4 linked regions of the Homo sapiens genome follow. The protein of the gene in region 2 purifies or fractionates together with the protein of the main gene of each other region. This does not show direct contact. Each region holds a gene or a part of one and is shown on either strand. Other genes may lie near its edges.

Region 1 (3,382 bases), on a different chromosome or scaffold from region 2:
ATTACATGGAGTCATTTACATCTATGATATTAGATCCATGTTTTACAAAAGGAACACACGTAGAGCCCAGACCACTGTTTCCTGACATGCTAGGCTAAAAGTCAAGATTCGAGACTCAGAATCATTTTGGTCCTCTTCAACATTTTACTCCATCTAATGGCACACTCTACTTATTGGGTCTCCTGAACTCTAGAGCCAGTAACAGTGATCCTAAAGTCATTCTCATGATTTTGCCTGAGGTACAATTTAAATTCTTGGATGACTCCAAATCTGCAGAAATATTAATCTAGAAAAAATAATAGTTATGTGTACAGGAAAAACTGTAAATTTTACTACATGTGAAAAAGATTTCTGCTTATTAAAAAATACCAAAGAGGCCAAAAGATTAGGAAAAGTTACTGAAACAACATATGACAAACACTAACCTTAATATATAAAGAAATATATATATTTCTTAAATATGTAAAGAAATTTGTAATCAGTAAAGATGACCAACAACGTGATGGTGAAACAGAAGAGTTTATAGTAACATGAACATGCCTGTTAAACATTTGAATAAATGATCAGTTTCTCATAACATAGAAATAGAAATGAAATTATAAATTGTGCTGTCTTGTTTGATCAAAAGTTTGATAAAACATTTAATAGTATACATATTCCAGGGAAGATGTTTCCTGTTCTATCTCCCAACACATACAGTGTTATTACCACAATATAGTGTCAAACCGTCAATGCAAAAATCTTTAATCTCCTTGCCCTGATGATATCTGTCTCTACAATATCCAGTACTCCCACGTCAATAAAATTTATACACCCATTTTCTGTTCCCACCTACCACACTAAATTCTTGTGATCTTTCTACTCTGCACTCTGAAATCCACAGTAACTTATTAGCATAATGCCCCCACCTTTTAAAAAAGCATTCTTAATTTGCCTTTTATTGTTTCTTAATTATAGGTTTAGGAAGTTACAAGGGCAGTTGTGTTACATACACATATAGTGTAGTGGGGAAAGTGTTGGCTTTTAATGGACTCATTACCTAAATAATGTACCTTGTACTAAATAGGATTTTTTTTGGTTTTTTTTTGAGATGGAGTCTGGCTTTGTTGCTCCCCCGGCTGGAGTGCAATGGCATAATCTCGGCTCACTGCAACCTCCACCTCCCACATTCAAGCAATTTGCTCTGTTGCCCAGGCTGGAGTGCAATGGCACTATCTCAGCTCACTGCAACCTCCGCTTCTCAGGTTCAAGTAATTCTCCTGCCTCAGCCTCCCAAGTAGCTGGGACTACAGTGCCTGCCACCATGCCCAGCCAATTTTTCTATTTTTAGTAGAGACAGGGTTTCGCCATGTCAGCCAGACTGGTCTCAAACTCTTGACATCATGTGATCTGCCCGCCTTGGCCTTGCAAAGTGCTGGGATTACAGGTGTGAGTGCCTGGCTTATTTTTAATTCTGTGTATGTGATGAATCATGTATTGAGTTGCATATGTTGAGCCATCCTTACACCCCAGGAATAAAATCCACTTGACTGTGCTGTTACTATCTTTTTTATGTACTGTTTGATTTGGTTTGCTAGTATTTTGCTGAAGATTTTTGTGTCTATTTTCATCAGGGATATTGGCTTGTAGTTTTTTTGTGTGTTTTATCCTTGCCTGGCTTCAGTATCAGGATGATACTGGCTTTGTAGAATGAGTTAGGGAGGATTCCCTCCTATAATTTTTGGAATAGTTTCAATAGTGCTGTTACTAGTTCTTCCTTGCATGTCTAGTAGAATTCAGCTGTGAATCTGTCTGGTCCTGGGCTTTTTGTTTTTGCAAGATTTTTTTCTATTACTGATTCAATTTCAATACTCAGTAGTCTGTTGAGGATTCCTATTTCTCCCTGGTTCAATCTTGGAAGGTTATGTGTTTCTAGGAATTTATCCACTTCCTCTAGGTTTTCTAATATGTGCATATAGTTTCTGCTGATATTTTATATGTCTGTGTTATCAGTTATAATATCACCTTATCATTTCTGATTGTATTTATTTGAATCTTCTTTTTTTCTTGGTTAATCTAGCTAGTGGTCTGTCAGTTTTATCTTTGCAAAGAACCAACTTTTTCTTTTATTGATCTTTTGCATTCCTTTGTTCTCAGTCTCATTTTTGCCTGCTCTGATATTTGTTATTGCTTTTCTTCTGCCAGCTTTGGGTTGAGTTTGTTTTGTTTTTTCCTAGTTCCTTGAGATGTGACGTTAGGCTATTCATTTGAGATTTTTCTATCTTTTTGGTGTAGGCATTTAATGCTATAAAATCCTCTCTTAGCACTGCTTTTGCTGTATCTCAGATGTTTTCATGTGTTTTGTCTCTATTTTCATTTATTTCAAAAAATTTTAAATTTCCACCTTAGTTTCATCATTGATCCAAAAATCATTCAGGAGCAAGCTGTTTAAATTCCATGTATCTGTTTTGAGAGTTCCTCTTGGTATTGATATCTAGTTTTATTCCACTATGGTCAGAGAAGATGTTAGATATGATTTTGTTTTTTTAAAATTTATTGATACTTGCTTTGTGGTCCAGTATATGACCTATTTTTGAGAATGTTCCATGCACAGAAGAGAAGAGTATATATTCTGTGGTTGTTGGGTAGAATGTTCTTCAGATGTCTGTTGGGTCCATTTGGTGTAGAGTCCAATTTAAGTCCAGAGTTTCTTTGTTGATTTCTGTCCCAGTGATCTGTCTAGTGCTGTCAATGGAGTGGTGAAGTCCCCTGCTATTGTTGTATTGCTGTCTATCTCTTTTCTTAGGTCTAGTAGTATCTGTGTTATGGATCTGGGTGTTGCAGTGTTGGGTGCATACATATTTAGGATTGTTTTATCTTCTTGTTGAATTTATCCTTTATCATTATAAATGACCTTCTTTGTCCTTTTTAATTTTTGTTGGTATAAAGTCTGTTTTGGCCATCACGGTGGCTCACGTCTGTAATCCCAGCACTTTGGGAGGCTGAGGCGGGCAGATCACTTGAAGTCAGGAGTTCAAGACCAGCCTGGCCAACATGGTGAAACCCCGTCGCTACTAAAAATACAAAAAAAAAAAAAAAAAAAATTAGCCGGGCATGGTGGCGCATGCCTGTAATCCCAACTACTTGAGAGGCTGAGGCACAAGAATCGCTTGAACTCAGGAGCTGGAGGTTGCAGTGAGCTGAGATCACACCACTGCACTCCAGCCTGGGCAACAGAGCGAGACTCTGTCTCAAAATAAAATAAAATAAAATAAATTTGACTAACAACTTATGTATAAAAGGAAATTACAAATATATTAGACAAAATCATTCTAACAGGGTATTATGGGTTGAACTGTATCCCCTAAAAAGATATGCTGAAGTCCTAACCCCTGGTACCGGT
Region 2 (5,598 bases):
ATCTTGGCTCACTGCAACCTCCGCCCCCCGGGGCTCAAACAATCCTCCCACCTCAGCCTCCCTAGTTGGGACCACAGGCGTGCACCACCACACCTGGCTATTTTTGTTGTTGTTGTTGTTGCTATTGGTGTTTTTAGTAGAGACAGGGTTTTGTCATGTTGTCCAGGGTAGTCTTGAACTCCTGAGCCCAACCAATCCGCCCGCATCAGCCTCCCAAAGTGTTGGGATTACAGGCGTGAGCCACCATGCCTGACCATTGAAATTACTCTTATTTTAAGGTAATGATTTGAAGTAATCAAACATAAAAACAACAAAATACTATCAATTGTTTGTTAGACAATTAAAATCCTAACAATAATAATAAATGAGTTATTTTTTTGTAACTAACATGAATTATACCAACCTTTCAGAAATCTGAGTCTTTCCATCTAATCTGAGGTACCTATGCTGATGATGTTTTAATAGAACCTCTAAGATATCCAGCATCATGGTAAATTGGCTAAATAACACAACTCTATCACCCTGTGAAAATACATACATGAATTAGAAATAGAAAAAATCGTTTTACTACTCAAAGCCTTGACAGGTTTAAACAGTTAGAAGTGTTACTTATATCATGTTGATAAATTTGCAGAAAATTCTCTGTGATAAACTGCTTCTTTAATACAAATCAGTAATACCGAAGACGTATGTCTTATTGCAGCCTATATATGAATAAACTGCCTTAACTTCAGGGCTAAAAGCTAGCTCTCAGTTTTGATTTTAAGAACAGTTAAATTACTTCCTTTTCATAAGAAAAACGTCGGAAAATGTGGACAACTGCTTATGTATGTATTATCTGGACTGTGATTTTACAAATTTAGGCTATTTCACACATAAACGGCAGCATTACTTAAATAACTAACAAATAGTGTCTTTAAAAACTAATTTTGAAGCACACATACAGATTGTCACCTATGAAATAATGACAATTAAGATTTTTTTAAAACATCAATACAGATACAGTCTACTAACTTTCTATTGTTTTTGTCTGAGGTTCAACAGAGGAAAGGAGGTAATCAAGAAAATACGTCAAGAAAATGTTCAAAACACTAAGTTCTGGAAGAATGCAGAACAGACATAGGCTAATTCAAGCAAGTCAGTGTGCCAGAATTGCTTTAAGAAGTTAAAGTAATTGAGAAAATACAAAAGAAACGCCATTCTTTTTTAATACCTTCTGTTTCAATTCAGACAAGATGCATCCTAAAACTCGAAATTTTCCAGAATCTAAAATCAAGTCCATGTCTAACTGAAAGTTATTAATGTGTCGGTACTGTTTACAAAGTACATGTAGTTCGAAGTCTGTCATAACTTCCATATCTTCAAAGATCAGGTCAGGGTTAGCCTCACAATGTGTAGGTTCCTTAAAACAAAACAAAACACAGTATACTTCAAAATAAAAATAATTAATAATATGATGAGAAAAGTTTAATAAAACTGTTTATACCTGATAAAATATCTAAATCATAGAACCTTTTAGTGTAACAGACTTATCAAGGAAAATTAGTATTAATCTTTTAGGTATAATAAAGGGGGAGAAGTCCTTACTGTTTGAGAGATAACATACTAAAATATTTACAGATGAAATAACATCTAGAACTTGGTTCAAAATAACCCTGGGGAGAAGTCTGGGGTATAGATGAAACAAGGGTGGTGTTATTATCAAATGGTAACTTTCAAAGGGGTGAAGTAACATATGGGCAGTTTCATTATGCAATTCTACTTTTATAAATGTTTGAAATTCTCCATAAGTTTAAAATAATAAAAAAAAATTTAAAAAGAAATGGGTTGGTCAGGTGCAGTGGCTCACGCCTATAATCCCAGCACTTTGGGAAGCCGAGGTGGGTAAATCACCTAAGGTCAGGAGTTCGAGACCAGCCTGGCCAACGTGGTGAAACCCCATCTCTACTAAAAATACAAAAATTAGCTGGGCGTAGTGGTAGGTGCCTGTAATCCCAGCTACTCAGGATGCTGAGGCAGGACAATCACTTGAACCTGGGAGGCGGAGGGTGCAGTGAGCAGAGATCATGCCATCGCACTCCAGCCTGGGCGACAAGAGCAAAAGTCTATCTCAAAAAAAAAAGTAAAGAAAAGGAAGAAAATGGGTTGCTTTCAACCAAAGATCAGTAAGGATAAATAAGGTTAAAATGTTAAAGGAGAAAGAGGCAAAAATAAAGAGTAATTGCTAAAATTATAAAGAAATAAAATGAAAAAGAAGTGCATTATGGAAGTCTAGACTAGGAGTTAGCAAACTGTTCCTGTAAAGGGCCAGATCATATTTTAGGCTTTGTAGGCAAAATGACCTGTAAGGCAAGTACTCAACTCTGCCCCTGTAGTGAGAAAGCAGTCCCAGAAAACAAAAACAGGCATGACTGTGTTATAGTAAAACCTTATTTATAAAAATAGTCACTGCCGTAAGGCCATAGTTTGCTGACTTATAATGTAGGTTATCAGTCCTTCTTTGTTTTTATGTCCCCCAGATCATTTTGAACTTAGTCTAAAATGTGTTTTTCGTGTTTCAGTGCAGTGACTGATGCCTGTAATTCCAGCACTTTGGGAGGCCAAGGCGGGCGAATCGCTTGAGCTCAGGAGTTCAAGACCAGCCTGGGCAACATGGCAAAACCCCATCCGTACAAAAAAATTAGCCGGGCATGGTGGTGCGTGCCTGTAGTCCCAGCTATTCAGCAGGCCAACGCAGGAGGATGGCTTAAGCCTAGGAGGCAGAAGTTGCAGTGAGCCCAGACTGCCTGCCTTGGCAACAGAACCAGACCTGGTCTGAAAAAAAAAAGTTTTTCTTAAATATGTAGTTAAAGGTTTAGTATGCCCATTGGGTTCACCAATCTTATAGCCTAACAACTTAACCTCTTATTAAAGCTTAGTGTTAACATAATATGAAATCCTTACCTTTAGCATAAGCTGAGACATTTCCTTGAGTTTTTCAGCTGTGTAATATTGGCGATGTAATAAAGGATGATTGGCCATTTTCCTCAACTGCATCATGACATTGCACATTTCTGTGTTTTTTTCTGTGACTCAAAGAGAACACAGTAAAAAATAAAACCAAGCGGATAACTGTTGAAATATATCAACTAAGTTTTAAAATTATTTCCTCAAATTCCAGATAATTTTTTAAAATGCACAAATCCCATTATATGACTAAACAAAATGCATCCCCAGTACAAGATTCTTTTTCACATAAAAGAGTAAAAATCAGATTATACCCAAGTTATTGATAGATTTTTTCAATCTGTTGAAAAGACCCAAATAGAGTTGCTCCTGCTTCTCCGACATTGCACACAACTCAATTCGATCTTTCTTGGGGGGTAACTGCTTGAGAACCTGAGACAGAAAAAACAGTTTAAGATAATCATTCTAGTAAAGAGAAAAACCTAAGTTTTAAAAACAATAAAAATAAAAAACATGTAGATATGCATTACCTCTTCTTTTACTCTTCTGAGAATAAATGGCTTTATAATTTGTTTTGCATGTGCTATTCTCTCCTTTTCATATATGCTTTGCTCATCTGCTGATTTCTGAGCAAAATAAAAACATATCCTTTTAGGAATTATTCACTTAAATTATTGCAATAACAGTATTATTACACAACATAAAAATCTCCCTCATTAGAGTCTGAGTTATTTTCTGCAGAAACTTGATTCATTCTAGATGGCACTTCACATCTGAATTCTGGGCTGCCATGTACTTCTTGAAGCTCCATATGTATTTTGAAGTTTTATGATACGTAATCATGTTCTCTACTGAAGTAATCAATTTGAACTGTACCAGATGGGTGTTCAGAAGTCATCAACTGATGAGTCATGTATCGATTACCTAGATAACTCTCATTGAAAAATGTGTCTAAGTGTGGGTAAGGAGGAGCGTGGGGGGTAGAAAATCCTTTATTTCTTTGTGGAAAATGGCCCCAAAAGGAAGCTAGTGCAGACTGATGCAAATCACTTGGTCTAAAAATGGGGAATAGTGCTTAGTCAGAACTGGTGACTCTGGAGAATTAAGAAGTAGAATTTTATTCTAGGATGTGAAGGAGTCCTCCATATATTATGAACTGAAGATAGAAAATGGTTCATAAAATCTGCTAGGCCATTTAAAACACTGTACATTAAGTGGGAGGGAATTCAAATTAGTAAATGTTTAAAAGGCAGTTAATTTGCAGTGGACGAGTATCACAGAAAATTCTTGCAAAAGATTAGTGATGTGGAAGAGAGCCAAGAATCAGTGTAAACACTGCGGTATTGAAAAAACTGGGAGTTCTTGAAGACTATACTTTTCCTAAACAATAAAGAAGTAACAAAACTTTTCTTGTGAAGAGGATTTCTTTACTGTCGCTTTTAGTTGTGACTTTGGTTTTATGAACTTTTATTTCAGAATATATTTCTCAGCATAGGCATTTTCTGGATATTCTAGCTTTGTCTAGTTTTATAGTTTACCCATAAAGAAATGTTACTAATTTACGTAGCCAATTTTGATACAGATGATGTAATGATCAAACTTTCCGCACATACTATATATCTGAGCTCTTCATCAATTTAAAATCGTCATCCTTCAGAAAATTAGGATATTAACCAAGACTTCTGGCCATTGATTAGGGAAATTGCTATTTTCTTTCCCATTATATTTTGGCTGGTTTCCAAACCAATCCAAATATAGAGTTATCACCTACTTAAAGTTACTTCATAGAGCATATGCACTATGAAAACAACAAAAGAGACCTAACAGAAGAATGGCCCAGATAAAACACAAATAACATATTTGGGAGAAAATATGCATTTATGCTTACTGTCTTAGAGGAAAACATTCTTCGTATTTCACTGGTGCTACTACTAAACATGTGTGGCATAACAAAATTCAACAGCGACATGAGTTCTAACAGATTGTTCTGTACAGGTGTGCCTGTGAGCAGCAAACGGTTATTTGCCTGTGAATGAAGGTAAAATTTATATTAGCTTTTTCTTAAAGAGCCACTCCTTTCATGTCTATCCTCCCCAGTGAAAGGTGAAGGGAGGAGAGATAAATTAAAACCATTATTAATAATTTAACATTCTGTGATAAATGATATAGTAATTTAAATAATTGACGTCCGCTATTATCAACAGCAATGAATACGAAAACCATTGGTCTTCTTTTATAAGTAGGTAACTTGTGTCCTCGTATCACCTTTATGAGATGATGAAAGATTATTTATAAATAGTTTAACATATAGAACAGGTAAATTATGGCTTATGACCTAATAATTTTTTAAAGGGTTGTTAAAAAACAAAATCAAAGAATACGTGACAGAGGCCATCTAGTCCATAAAGTGTGAAATATTTACTATCTTCCCTTTTACAGAAAAAACTTGCTAACACAGAATACTACATATATTAAACTACATAATACAGATTCTGCTAATAAATACTACATATATTAAATTACGTAATCTAAATTTTACAGTAATTTGGAAAACTTTACAAACATTCTCTTACATTAATTGTCATAAGGTGCTGGTAGCGAATGGAGCCCATATTCTTCAGCATATGGCCCTCATCAAAAATTGCGTAATTA
Region 3 (3,637 bases), on a different chromosome or scaffold from region 2:
TATGCGTTAACATGTGTCTTCGAATGCTTACAAGAGAAATAAAGGTTTCTCCACATTCCTTACAATCATAGGGCTTTCCTCCAGGATGAGTCCTTTCACGTACTGGAAAAGAGCGATGATAACTCAAGGCTCGTCCACACTGGTTACGTGTATATGACTTCTTTCCATATTCCTGATATTCATTTGGTTCACGTCCAGTGTGATCTCTGATGTGCCTATTAAGTGATGAAGGACCCATGCCAACTTCTCCACACACACTGCTTTCACACGGTTTTACTCCAGGAGTTTTCTTGTTCAGAATACCATCTGGAATCTGGCTGAAGGTTTCTTCACCTTGACCACCTTCTTTACTTTCACAGAGTCTCTCTGGAATATGACTTGTCAGAAAAATGAGAAGTACATTATTAATGTTTTGTTTATAAATGATTTTATATTTATTAATAGGTATTAGACTTACATATACTTGTTTTTAAATACAGAGACAGAATCTTACTATGTTGCCCAGGCGTGAACCCTGAACTCCAAGGCTCAAGGGATCCTCTCACCTCTGCCTCCCAAAGTGCTGGGATTACAGGCGTGAGCCACCATGCCTGGCCTTGGATTCACATGTTTAACATTACCAGGGAAAGTGTACGTTTTATGCCTGTCTCAACTGTTTGAACATGAGTGGACTAAATGGTCTGCAATAGGTCACAACCATACCTATTATCAAAAAATGATATTCATGGCCAGACGCAGTAGCTTATGCCTGTAATCCCGGCACTTTGGAAGGCCAAGACAGGAGGATCACCTGAGGTCAGGAGTTTAAGACCAGCTTGACCAACGTGGAGAAACCCTGTCTCTACTAAAAATAAAAAATAAAAAAAATTAGCCAGGCGCAGTGGAGCACGCGTGTAATCCCAGCTACTCGGGAGGCTGAGGCAGGAGAATTGCTTGAACCCAGGAGGCAGAGGTGCAGTGAGCCAAGATCATGCCATTGCACTTCAGCCTGGGCAACAAGAGCGAAACTCTGTCTCAAAAAAAAAAAAAAGAAAGAAAGAAAATGATATTCATGGCCAGGTGTGGTGGCTCACATCTGTAATCCCAGCACTTTCGGAGGCTGAGGCAGGTGGATCACCTGAGGTCAGGAGTTCAAGACCAGCCTGGCCAACATGGTGAAACCCTGTCTCTACTAAAAATACAAAAAATTAGCCAGGTGTGGTGGCAGGCGCCTGTAATCCCAGCTACTCGGGAGGCTCAGGCAGGAGAATCGCTTGAATCCAGGAGGCGGAGGTTGCAGTGAGCCAAGATGGCACCCTTGCACTCCAGCCTGGGCAACGAGTTGTGAAATTCCCTCTCAAAAAAAAAAAAAAAAAGATATTCGTATGAAGTTTCTTAATACTATCTATAATTGAACTATTTTGCAAACACTGAACATCTATGTTACACTTAACTATGTTTTTGGAGAAGATTTTCTTTTTTTCTTTTTTGAGACAGAGTCTCACTCTGTCACCCAGGCTGGAGTGCAGTGGTGCCATCTTGGCTCAAAGCAAGCTCTGCCTCCCAATTCACGCCGTTCTCCTGTCTCAGCCTCCCGAGTAGCTGGGATTACAGGCACCCACCACCACACCCAGCTAACTTTTTTTTTGTATTTTTAGTAGAGACGGAGTTTCACCGTGTTAGCCAGGATGGTCTCGATCTCCTGACCTCGTGATCTGCCCACCTCAGCCTCCCAAAGTGCTGGGATTACAGGCGTGAGTCACCATGCCTGGCTTGGAGAAGATTTTCTAAAAACAAAACAGTTTGAAGCTGGGCTTATATGTTGTTTGCTTGCTTTTAAAAATTCCTGCTGGGCATGGTGGCTCAGGCCTGTAATCCCAGCACTTTGGGAGGCTGAGGCAGGCAGATCACGAGGTCAAGAGAACAAGACCATCCTGGCCAACATGGTGAAACCCCGTCTCTACTAAAAATACAAAAAATTAGCTCGGCGTGGTGGCACGTGCCTGTAGTCCTAGCTACTCAGGAGGCTGAGGCAGGAGAATCACTTGAACCTGGGAGGCGGAGGTTGCAGTGAGCCAAGATTGTGCCACTGCACTCCAGCCTGGCGACAGAGCGAGACTTCATCTAAAAAAAAAAAAAAAAAAAATTCCTAACAATACGAAATGCTCTCAAGGAACAGAACTTTCTTTTGTGAGTGCAAATTACCTTATATTTCTCCTGGGAATTTTGAATGGGTCTTCAATGTTCTGGTCTTCCCATTGTTTTCCTAAAATTTAGACCCAGAAAAGTCATTATGAATTAGTATAAAATTATGAAAAAAGTATTAGATTCTATATTCATAATTCCCTGTACCCATGCCTGGTTTATTCCCCAAAGTGTTAAGGAGCTAGAAACACTTGTTCTCTAATTCACTGAGGAAAGGAATATTGTCACCCTTACCTACAGAAGCCAGGTTCCTGAAGGTTTCCCGCATCACATCCCTGTAGAGATTCTTCTGGGAAGGATCCAGCAAAGCCCACTCCTCCAGGGTGAAGTTCACAGCCACATCCTCAAAGGCCACTGAATCCTGAAACATCCCCCATGTGTGGAGGAGGAAGGTTGAGACAGACAGCACTGGGGGCCTAGACTTTATTCCCAAGAAGTTCTCAGGATGCTATGCTTTCCAAACATTTATTTCAAGATTCCACAGTCATCAAACTTACCCTCTGTCTAGACTCACTTCCTTCCACAAAGCAATTCTGCTGCTAGAACTGAACTAGCAACAGCAGAATAGGAGCATGCCTCTCTGGTGGGAGAAGTATGTACTGCCTGGGCCACCCCTAATGTCTCTCTGTAAGGTAGGCCTGTAGCACCTGTTGTAACAAACATGTAGTGGCTGGGCGCGGTGGCTCACGCCTGTAATCCCAACACTTTGGGAGGCCGAGGCGGGTGGATCACGAGGTCAAGAGATCGAGACCATCCTGGCTAACAAGGTGAAACCCCATCTCTACTAAAAATACAAAAATTAGCCAGGCACGGTGGTGGGTGCCCATAGTCCCAGCTACTCAGGAGGCTGAGGTAGAAGAATGGCGTGAACCCAGAAGGCGAAGCTTGCAGTGAGCTGAGATTGCACCACTGCACTCCAGACCGGGTGACAGGGCAAGACTCCGTCTCAAAAAAAAAAAAAAAAAAAAAAATCTAGTAACTAGAGTGCAGAAAAAAGAGTTAACATTAGCCACCCTGAGACTGTGTATCTTTAGAAATGCTTGTTCACAAAGTTTGAGCTTTGACAGTATCTGGGTACTGGATTTTAGACAGGATCCCACCAACCTAACTGATAAAAGAGTCATAACTTACTAGAACAGACTCCCATAGCAAAATCTCTGTGGGAAGCAGTACAGGGGTAGGAAAACCTAAATTGCAACTAATGAATTACTAAAGGCTAAGTGTAAAAATCTGGCTGGGCACGGTGGCTCACGCCTGTAATCCCAACACTTTGGGAGATGGAGGCAGGAGGATCACTTGAGCTCAGGAGTTCAAGACTGACCTGGAAAACATAGCGAGACCTCTTGTCTACTAAATATTTTTTTTAATTAGCTGTTTTTTAAAAAAAAAGAGGTAAAAATCCAGGGGATCCAGTCATAGGGGGCCCCCAGAAATGTGTGAGCTCTACCTCCAG
Region 4 (4,128 bases), on a different chromosome or scaffold from region 2:
GAAAGGTGCGACTCCAAAGGAAACATACTCTAGAATTCCATTTATATGACATTCTGGAAATGATATAAACTATACAGACAGAAAATGAGTCAGTTGACAAGGGCTGGTGGTGGGGAGAGGAGCTGACTAAACAGAACAAGCAAGTTTCAGGGCAGGGGGTACTAGAACTATAGACTATCTTGATTGTGATGGTGGTGTTCACATAACAGCACTTGCCAAAATGCATGATAGAGTCAGTTTCACTGTATATAAATTATTCCCTAATTAAAAAAAGAATGTTAGCTTATATGATTTTCATGGATGCCTTTTATCTCATTGAAGAATTTTTTCATCATGAGTGGATGCTAAATTTTGTCAAATGTTTTCTCTGAATCTACTGAGATGATCATACATTTGATCATAAGAATCCAGATATAAGAGTACATACTAAATCCATAGGAAGCTCAGGAACAGACCTAATTAATTTATGGTATAGAAATCATAATACTTGGCACTGGAGGTGGGATTGACTGGAAATGGGCACAAGAAAACTTTTTGGTTTAATAGACATATTGTATACATTGATCTTGGTGATGATTACATTTGTCAAAATTCAGAAAGCCATGAACTTGAGACTTGTGCATGTTACTGCATGCAGATTACACCTCAATAAAGTACTGTTAACATACAAAACTTCTAGTTGCTAGCCAGAAACTGATTTCTGAACCCACTAACAAGCTGCAACCTTCAGTTTGATAAACACTTGTCCACGAGATCTGCAAAAATGGGAAAATCAGGCCATATGACTAACTTATATATCCTCCAAGCCTTGCAGAATTCTTCTGAGTACAATTTTAGAGAAACTTCTAGAGATAAATAAAAATGTCAAATATTACTGAATTTCAAATATGACAGTAATTTCAAATACTACTGAAAAATTACAACGTATTAGGCACTGAAAAGGCAGAGTAGATTTGGCAGTCAACAAAGTCCCTGCCCTCTTGGATCTTATATTCTAGTGGAACAGAATTCAGCATTTCTATCTTAGTACTTCTGATTTACTCCAGATCAGACTCATCCTTCCTGATCCTCTTGTCTGCATGTATCAGCTAATGGTCAATGTTCTGAATGCAGTCCATATGTCTCCACTCTTGTGAGGCTTCTCTGCTGTGTGGTCTCCCAATCACTTGGCTGAACTACTGACTCTATAAAACAAATGTTTTGTCTATGATAGCTCTGATTATTAAAATATTTCAGCACCCATCTGAGATAGTAAAACATATTTTATCGAGTTTTCCTGTGTGAATCCTCTGATGAAGGAAAGTCCTTGTCACCCTCATCATCAGCATGGACTCGCTGATGAATGATAAGACTTGAGCTCCAACTGAAGCCCTTCCCACACTCCTCACATTTGTATGGTTTTTCTCCGGTGTGAACTCTTTGATGGGCTTGAAGGTATGAGCTCCAGCTGAAGACTTTCCCACATTCCTCACATTTGTATGGTCTCTCTCCTGTGTGGACCCTCTGGTGGGCTTGAAGGTAGGATCTCTGTCTGAAGCGCTTACCACACACATCACATCGGTATGGTTTTTCTCCTGTGTGGACTCCACGATGTGCCAGAAAATTGGAGGCCCGACAGAAGCCCTTCCCACACTCCTCACATTGATAGGGTTTCTCTCCAGTGTGGCACCTCTGATGGGCTTGAAGCTGTGAACCTACACTGAAGCCCTTCCCACACTCTGCACACTGATATGGTTTCTCTCCAGTGTGAACTCTCTGATGCACCTGAAGGCTGGAGAACTGACTGAAGGCCTTACCACACCTCTCGCATTTATAGGGTTTCTCTCCTGTGTGGATTCTACAGTGTACATTAAGATCTGAGCTCCGACTGAAGCCCTTCCCACATGTACCACATTTGTAGGGTTTCTCTCCAGTGTGGCCTCTTTGATGGGCCAGAAGATTTGAGGCCTGGCTGAAGCCCTTGCCACACTCCTCACATTTATAGGGTTTTTCCCCTGTATGGACTCTAAAATGAATGTTAAAATCTGAGCTACGACTGAAGCCCTTACCACATGCATCACACTGATACGGTTTCTCTCCAGTATGGCCTCTTTGATGGTCCAGCAGATTTGAGGCCCGGCAGAAGCCTTTCCCACACTCCTCACATTTGTATGGCTTCTCTCCAGTGTGGCTTATCTGATGGGCCTGAAGGTGTGAACCCACACTGAAACCTTTCCCACACTCCTCACACTTATAGGGTTTCTCTCCTGTGTGGATTCTACAATGAATATTAAGGTGTGAGCTGTAACTAAAGCTCTTGCCACATGCATTGCATTTGTATGGTTTCTCGCCAGTGTGGATTCGCTCATGAGCCTGCAGTCGTGAACGCCAACTGAAGCTCTTCCCACACTCTTCACACTTATATGGTTTCTTTCCAGTGTGAACTTTCAGATGAACTTGAAGATATGATCTCTGACTGAAGCCCACCCCACACTCCTCACATTTATAGGGTTTCTCTCCCGTATGAACTATCAGAGGAGCTTGACAATGTGAGCTTTTCCCAACATTCCTCCCACACTCTTCATATTTGTATGGATTCTCTCCAGTGGGAACTCTCTGATGATGGGGAAGATGTGACCTCTGACTAAAACTCCTGTAACTTGCATCATTTGTGTATGATTTTGCTCTACTGTGGACTCTCTGATGGGCTTGAAGACTTGAAAACCGACGGAAGGCATTATCACATTTTTCACATTTGTAGGGCTTCTCTCCTGCATGAGCCCTTTGGTTAATTTGAAGATGAGAGCTCCAGCTGAAACTTTTCACACAATGTTCTCCTTTGTAGGGTTTTTCACCAGTGTGGACTCTGTGAACTTGAAGATGGGAACTCTGATTACTGAATCCCTCATCTTTATAGTGCAAATCATCTCGTTTTTCCAACTGGCAGCCTGTTCTTTGAATATTTACCACAGAATCTTGATACTTGATTAACTCTCTTGTAATCTGTTGCCAGATCTGGGAGCAGAAAAGCTCTTCATGAGGCAGGTACCTTAATCCTACTTCTTGAAGAGTCTCCATCTCTTTTAGATTCTTGGCTCCTAAAAGGATAAAGAAAATGTGGAGATGGGGCATGTGAATAATGTTTTGTTCCAAGATGTCAAGTTTATAAACTCGGGCCCATAGCCTAAGGCTTCATTGAACCAGGAGAAGGTTCCATTGCCTACTGCATAGACATCTGAACAAAGTGGCCCTGTTCAAAATGTCTAGTAAAACTCCTACACATAAATTTTCAAAAACCTTTGCCTGGGATTATTTCATTGGAAGTTTATTCCAAGGTTGGGAGATGTTGAGGCACTGTGCTAGTTAGAAAGACACATTTTTCAGAAAATACCTTATCACCTAAGTCAGGGCCCCCAACCCCTGGGCCGTGGATCAGTACCAGTCCGTGGCCTGTTAGGATCTGGGCCACACAGCAGGAGGTGAGCGGGAGGCCAGTGGGCATTACTGCCTGAGCTCTGCCTCCTGTCACATCAATGGTGACATTAGATTCTTATAGGAGTGCGAATCCTATCGTGAACTGCGCGTGCGAGGGATCTAGGTTGCGTGAGAATCTAATCTTATGAGAATCTAACTGAGGTCTGATGATCTGAGGTAGAACAGTTTCATTTCAAAACCATCCCCCCGACCCCAGTCTGTGGAAAAACCATCTTCCAACAAACCAGTCCCTGGTGCCAAGATTGGGGATCACTGACCTACATACCTAAAGTTCGAGTGTAAACAGATAGTGGTCCTTTACCTCTTGCTAGGAAATAGCCTCCATGAGAACACCTGGGAGAAGAGGTTTATGGTAATAACACACATTATTCTAAAACCTGATAGCAATTAAAGTTTCCATAACCACCAGGGGGGTTTCACCATGTCGGTCAGGCTGGTCTCAATCTCCTGACCTCGTGATCCACCTGCCTCGGCCTCCCAAAGTGCTGGGATTACAGGTGCGAGCCACCGGCACCTGGCCTTCTTTTTGTTTTTTTGAGACAGAGTCTCACTCTGTCACCCAGGCTGGAATGCAGTGGCACAAACATGGCTTGCTGCAGCCTCAACCTCCTGACTCAAGTGATTCTCCTGCCTTATCCCCCCAAGCTGCTGGGA

What was found.
Region 1: the proteins of SMARCAD1 (region 2) and ZNF829 purify together in Homo sapiens (affinity purification with mass spectrometry, with the first as the bait; one study listed by BioGRID). This does not show direct contact.
Region 3: the proteins of SMARCAD1 (region 2) and ZNF627 purify together in Homo sapiens (co-immunoprecipitation; one large-scale study listed by IntAct). This does not show direct contact.
Region 4: the proteins of SMARCAD1 (region 2) and ZNF45 purify together in Homo sapiens (co-immunoprecipitation; one large-scale study listed by IntAct). This does not show direct contact.

The regions. Positions count from the first base shown.
Region 1 is NC_000019.10:36,887,624-36,891,005, forward strand, and holds the end of ZNF829 (zinc finger protein 829), read right to left. Parts: 3' UTR 501-3,382; downstream 1-500. UniProt on the Homo sapiens protein: May be involved in transcriptional regulation.
Region 2 is NC_000004.12:94,276,396-94,281,993, reverse strand, and holds part of SMARCAD1 (SWI/SNF-related matrix-associated actin-dependent regulator of chromatin subfamily A containing DEAD/H box 1), read right to left. Parts: coding exon 5,520-5,598; intron 4,973-5,519; coding exon 4,835-4,972; intron 3,573-4,834; coding exon 3,477-3,572; intron 3,379-3,476; coding exon 3,261-3,378; exon of another isoform or gene 3,072-3,260; coding exon of another isoform or gene 3,066-3,071; coding exon 2,944-3,065; intron 1,403-2,943; coding exon 1,214-1,402; intron 523-1,213; coding exon 404-522; intron 1-403. UniProt on the Homo sapiens protein: DNA helicase that possesses intrinsic ATP-dependent nucleosome-remodeling activity and is both required for DNA repair and heterochromatin organization.
Region 3 is NC_000019.10:11,613,435-11,617,071, reverse strand, and holds part of ZNF627 (zinc finger protein 627), read right to left. Parts: intron 2,546-3,637; coding exon 2,419-2,545; intron 2,246-2,418; coding exon 2,185-2,245; intron 378-2,184; coding exon 1-377. UniProt on the Homo sapiens protein: May be involved in transcriptional regulation.
Region 4 is NC_000019.10:43,912,124-43,916,251, forward strand, and holds the end of ZNF45 (zinc finger protein 45), read right to left. Parts: intron 3,078-4,128; coding exon 1,264-3,077; 3' UTR 501-1,263; downstream 1-500. UniProt on the Homo sapiens protein: May be involved in transcriptional regulation.